Regions from separate parts of the Homo sapiens genome. Here region 2 is linked to region 1. A link means that fine-mapping ties the variant in region 1 to the expression of a gene that starts in the linked region. Tissue or cell type: whole blood. Region 1 holds a variant in brackets; the other region holds the start of a gene. All regions are shown on one strand. Distances are between the middles of the regions.

Region 1 (2,684 bases):
GCTATGTCTGTTGACCATTGATTAGTAACTGTGTTTTAAAATTTATGTTATTTAAAAAATATTTTTGTGGCTTAAAACAACACACATTTATTCTCCTACAATTCTGGAGGTCAGAAGTCCAAAATCAGTTTCACTGAGCAAAAGTCAAGGGTTTAGTAGGCTTGGTTCCTTCTAGTAACTTTATTTTTTATACCAAGGATTGTATATGCCAGTTTTACAATATCCATTGTGAAATGCCTCAAAATGTCATGCTCACACGTGTCTGGGGCTGTGGTATGGAATCTGCCCTTTTGATTGGTACTAGAATGTGTGGCCACCATATTTGGACTTCGTCCAATTTCTCTCCTCTGGGACAGGAATGTTTTCAACCTCATTCCTAAAATGTAGAGAATAGGTAATGTTCTATATTTTTGTGTATTATATACATCTAAAATACAAATACAAATATAAAATAAAGTTAAAATAAAACAATACGCTCTTCAAAAAGGTTGTAAAGCAAAGCAAGTCCCCATTCTCCATTCATTGCTGCATGTTCTACATCATTTGGCTTTTCATATGCTCATGTTGCCAAAAAGGAGTAAGTAGTAAATTATTCCTTTATCTTAGTGGAGACATAGTTCATCATGTTCAAATTATCAGTATTATAACATTTAAAAAATCTGGAAATTATCCTGTCATCGGAAGACAAAACAATCTTAGAATTGTTACTTATATTTAAGACATATGTTTCACACTGGCAGGTTCTAGTTATAAAATTAGGGCTTGTTTTTCCAGTTGAACAATGTATTTGTTTAAGGGAGGACTCCCAAAACAATTAAGTCACTCAGAGTGCTTCTGGAATCTGGCTTTATGAACTTTGATCCAAATCATAACAATGCTAGTTAAGATGCCCTGGGGATGGTTCTGCAAGTTTCTGCTTCAACTTTTCTAAGGGAAGAGTTCAATATATTTTCACAGATACGGTTTTAAAACTTCAGAGAAACTTCATCCACATGTCCTCATTTGTGCCTTATCCAGTTCACAGTCATTTTTCTCATTTCCAAGTTATTGTTGTCCTTTCATTTTCTATTCCCCATCTGCGGGGCCTGTGGCATTGCTGGCTTGGCCTGTTAGTGTTCCAACTCAGCTGTAATTTTAATCTCCTTCGTCAGCTGAAAGGAGAGACTTCTAAATAATTCCTTTGTCTTAATGAACTCATTCATAAAAGGCATTTTCCCCATTTCCCTAATTTTCTGGGCTTAGAGACTTTCCTAATTGCAGTTACTACATATCCTCAGAAATTTCTTCCCATTCCCACAATAAAAAGACTGACTGGATACCTTCCCACCC[G/A]AGCCTCCTCTGTGTGTGTGTGTGTGTATGTGTGTGTGTATTATGGATGGTAATCAGTGGTGTGTTTATAAAGTCGGAATAATTTCTATTAAGATTGAAATAAAAACTTTAATTTCCATTTTATGTGTGGAAGTCATATCCTGGAACAAACTTTATAAGAAATGTGCAAGGTCTTTAAAAAGAAAACTTAAAATGCTGCTGTCCTTCCTCACCCCTCACCACACACACACTTGAAAATACGCATCTAAACTCTGCGATTAATTTTTCAGACCCATTAAAGTGAACTCCTCTCAAGATCTGTGCGTTTCATTGTGTGAAACTGTACTTCAACTTAACAACAAAACAAAACCTGCTATGAGAGTTCCAAAATAAGACTTAAATAGAAATGCTTAGGATATTTTGGATAGGAAGATACAACAGCGTAAAATCAGTTCTCTCTTAATTTACATATTTAATGCTGCCCCAATAAAATACAATACTTGTGTTTATATGTAAACTAAATAAGCTGATTTTAAAATCAGTATGTAAAAAATAAGAATAATCAGGAGAATTTTGAAAAAGAGAAATGAGAGTAATTAGCTCTAACATATAAGACATGTTATAAAACGATAGTAATTAGAACAGTATGGCACTGTCACATGAACTGGTAGTTTAAGGGCACAGAATTAAAAGTTCCAAAATAGACCCCAATATTTCCAAATATGGAAATTGAATGTATAGTAAATATGGCATTTCAAGTTTGTAAAGAAAAGATGGAGGACTCAATAAATAGTATTTGAATAACTGCATAAACATCTAAAAAACAGCTAAGTTGAATCCATGTATTTTTCTTTATGCCAAAATAAATACCCCTTGGATTAAAAAATTAAACCCATAGATGAGGATAGAGATGAAACAGATGGAACATGACTTGATAATTTGTTCAAGTTGGGTCCTGGGTACAGGGCAGGGGGTTTATTACACTATTCTGTATCTATTGTATATTTGAAATTCTCCACGATGAAAAATTCAAAAAATGAAATTCTTAAAAATATTTGAAGAGAACAGGGAATTTAAAAAATCTTGGCGTGAAGAAGGGCTTTCTAAATATGACAGAAAACTGAGAAACGATATGAGATTGATACATTTTACTTCATTCACTAACTTATTTATTCCACGAAAATTCATTTAACACCTTCTATGTAAAAAAAAAAAAAAAAAAAAAAACCACTGAGAAAAGCAAGGAACAAATGAAAAGTGGGGGAAATTTTTCTAACTTACAGAAAAGGCCGAATTTCCTTAGCATGTGAAGATGCTCTAGACTCTACAATTCTATTGGAAAAATTAGCCTACAATTCCATTAAAAAATAGAAAAT
Region 2 (2,684 bases), 92 kb after region 1:
TGTATCCTTGCAAAATACGTGGACTCTCTGAGGCTGTTTCCCCATTTTTAACAAGAGATAATGGTGCCTTCCTGTTGTGAGGATTAACTGGGATATTGTGCTCAAAGCCCTTAGCAAGATGCCTGGCACACATAAATGGGAATATCTGCTGTTAATTATATTATGGCTGCACTCTGATGGACAGAAATACCTCCCTGGGGGCATTTCCAGAATCCCCACTTCTGGAGCCCATCTCTGAGGTGGCCCTGGATATTTGGGAGGCCTCTCTGTGCCCTCTGCCAGGGCTCCAGCGGGACCTTCCTGCTTCTCCCCACGGATCCGGCTTTCTGGTCCCCAAACCGCATATTATCTGGGCACACCCTCCCCTTCATTTACCCAGAGTGACCAAAGTTCCAACCACACCTCTCCGGGCAGCCTGTCCCCAAATTTCGGGGAAGTGGGCAGGAGGGGGAGCTTTGCCGGGCAGGAGGGGGAACTTTGCCAGGCAAGGGCTCCGCGGGCAGAGGCGGGCACTGGTGAGGCCAGCCTCCTCCTGGGGACCAAGGTCGGGCGCCCCTGCCCAGCCCCTGCACCTGCCCCTGTCCCTGCCCTGTTCGGCTGCGAAGGGACTGGGAGGTCTGGCGAGGAAGAGCCTGGAAGATCCCCGCCCACAGCTACCAGCCCTCCTTTGGGACCGCTGGCCAGAGCCCCAGCCGTGGGGCACACGGGACCTGTGGACTCAGCCGGGGTCATCCGGAGGGGCGCCCACATCTGCACCCGGGGCTCCGGAGCCTGCTCCCCGCCACTGTCGCCGCCGGCCCTGCCTAACCTGCGCGGCGCAAGCGGCTTCCACGCCTAGGGAAGGAAGGCACACGGGGTGGGGGCCCCGGAACCCGGTTTCTCTGCCGCCGGGCGCACGTGGCTCGGTCCCAGGGGACAGAAGTCGCCTCCAGACGTGTGGCGGCACCCGAGGTCCGCGCAGCGACGGCGCAGGGTGCAACCGGGCGGGCGTCTCGGGGACCGGGCGCAGCACGCAGCCCCGCGGAGACCGGGGGAGGGTACACTCACCTCTGCGGCCCGCCGCTCGGAGCGACCGCGGCAGCTGAAGGTCCGCGGCGAAGGCGGTGGCTCGGCCCGAGGCTCCTCCTCCCCCGCGCCCCACCCGCCCGGGAGGGCCGGACCTGCAGGGGAGGTGGCCGCCCTCCAGCCCGCCGCAGCTTATCCGGCTCGGCCACCTCCCCCGGGGCCGCAATCAGGAGCCGCCGGGTCCTCGCTCCCCGCCCAGCCCTGCACAGCCCCGGCAGCGGTGGCAGCGTCCAACCACCCTCCTCCCCTGGCCCCAGGCGGGAGGTCGCCAGCCGGCGCCAACACTTCCTGATTTGCAGTGCCCGGCACACGGCTGAAGTGAGCAGAACTCCGGGACCTCCTCTTAACCCGGCCACGGAGGGCACCGAGGCCAGGGTGACCTCTAGGCCCCCCTCTCTTAACCTGAGGAGCACCTCGAATCCTTGTCCATTTTATAACCGAGGCCAAGTGGCAGCCACGGTTGCAGGTGGGAAGAGACCAGGGCTCCAGATTGGGTCCGGATCCCTTCCCTCTCAACAAGGTTGCGCCCAGGCCTTTGTGGTCCCCCCCCAATCTCTGTCCCTTGTCCACCCTTAGGGCAGACTTTTGACCCTTCCCAGCAGTCCTCAGGTTCCAAGACCGGTGGGATGGCGGGTACCTTTCTCCCGGAGCTGCCTCCCTGTCTAGGCCTTCTGGGCTCTGAAACCCTACCCGTCCCCCCTTCCCCCTGGGGCACTGCCCGCTGCCCTCCGCACTTCCAATGCCGATGGCTTCACAGCACTGCAGCGAAGCAGGGCGTAAGTAAGGGGAGGCTGTCTGTGGGCACCTCTCTAGAGGTGTGCGCCCTGGTCCGAAGCCCCTTCTCACCTGTGGTCACATTTGCCGGCTGCAGTTATTTTCTTTACAGGTGAGGAGACCCGGGCTTTTCCGCTCAGATTCGTGGAGGCTGAGTGGGGGTTCCTGACCCCTGGTACTCTTTCTAGAGTATTCCTGGGAGACATACACTATTAGCCTCTGATAAGGAGCTTCAGGTTATTTTTAGGAAGTCTAAGAATCCTGTTTTCTGGGGAGCCAGCCTCTGTTGGGGAGATAAGCCTCCGGAGGCCAGAGGCAGGAGCTGGGCCTCAAGGAAGGCCCCACAACTGGACCCCAAAGGGCACGGTGGGGAGGAAGAGGCAGAGCTCTGGTCTCCCTGTGGAGGGAGTGCTGCTGTAAAGCGCCTTTCCCTCCACCCCCAACTCCCGCCGAGAACCCCCCCACCCCCGCAGGCAGTTTGCTTTCCCCCTCCACAGCTTTCCTCCTACCCGAATACCCACCTCCCAGCTCTCTGCTCAGCCAGGGCCCAAGGCCAGAGCCTCTCTTCTCTTGCAAGAACTTTCCTGTCCCACCTTGCCCCAGGGCAACACCTCTTATGGCAATTCTTACAGGTCCTTTATCCATTCAACACTCACAGTGCCCCAGGTGCCAGACAGTGCTCCCAGTGCTGGAGACACACGTGCCCAATGGAGGTTCCTGCCCTTAGGGTGCCAGGGCTGGTGAGTGGCCCCTGCAGTGGGTTGTAAACTTTGAGAAGACAAGACCCAGTTCCTAGCCCCCTCTGGTGCCCCTAATATGCTCCCCCTGCAGTAGCTGTTCTTTTG

What was found. PIP is the estimated chance that this variant, and not a neighbour inherited with it, causes the effect.
Region 2: it holds the start of STEAP3, and the variant in region 1 is fine-mapped to the expression of STEAP3 in whole blood (TOPMed, PIP above 0.99). The same link has a PIP of 0.9 or more in blood mononuclear cells.

The regions. Positions count from the first base shown.
Region 1 is chr2:119,313,866-119,316,549 of GRCh38, reverse strand. The region is part of intron 4 of C2orf76 (chromosome 2 open reading frame 76); the gene reads left to right. Among named protein-coding and RNA genes, the nearest start is that of C2orf76, 52 kb to the left of the region's middle. The variant G/A (reference allele first, on the strand shown) is at 1,330.
Region 2 is chr2:119,222,252-119,224,935 of GRCh38, reverse strand. STEAP3 (STEAP3 metalloreductase) reads right to left here and starts at 1,102. Exons shown (of 6, transcript NM_182915.3): 1 at 1,048-1,102. RefSeq lists silencers at 450-519, 580-1,359.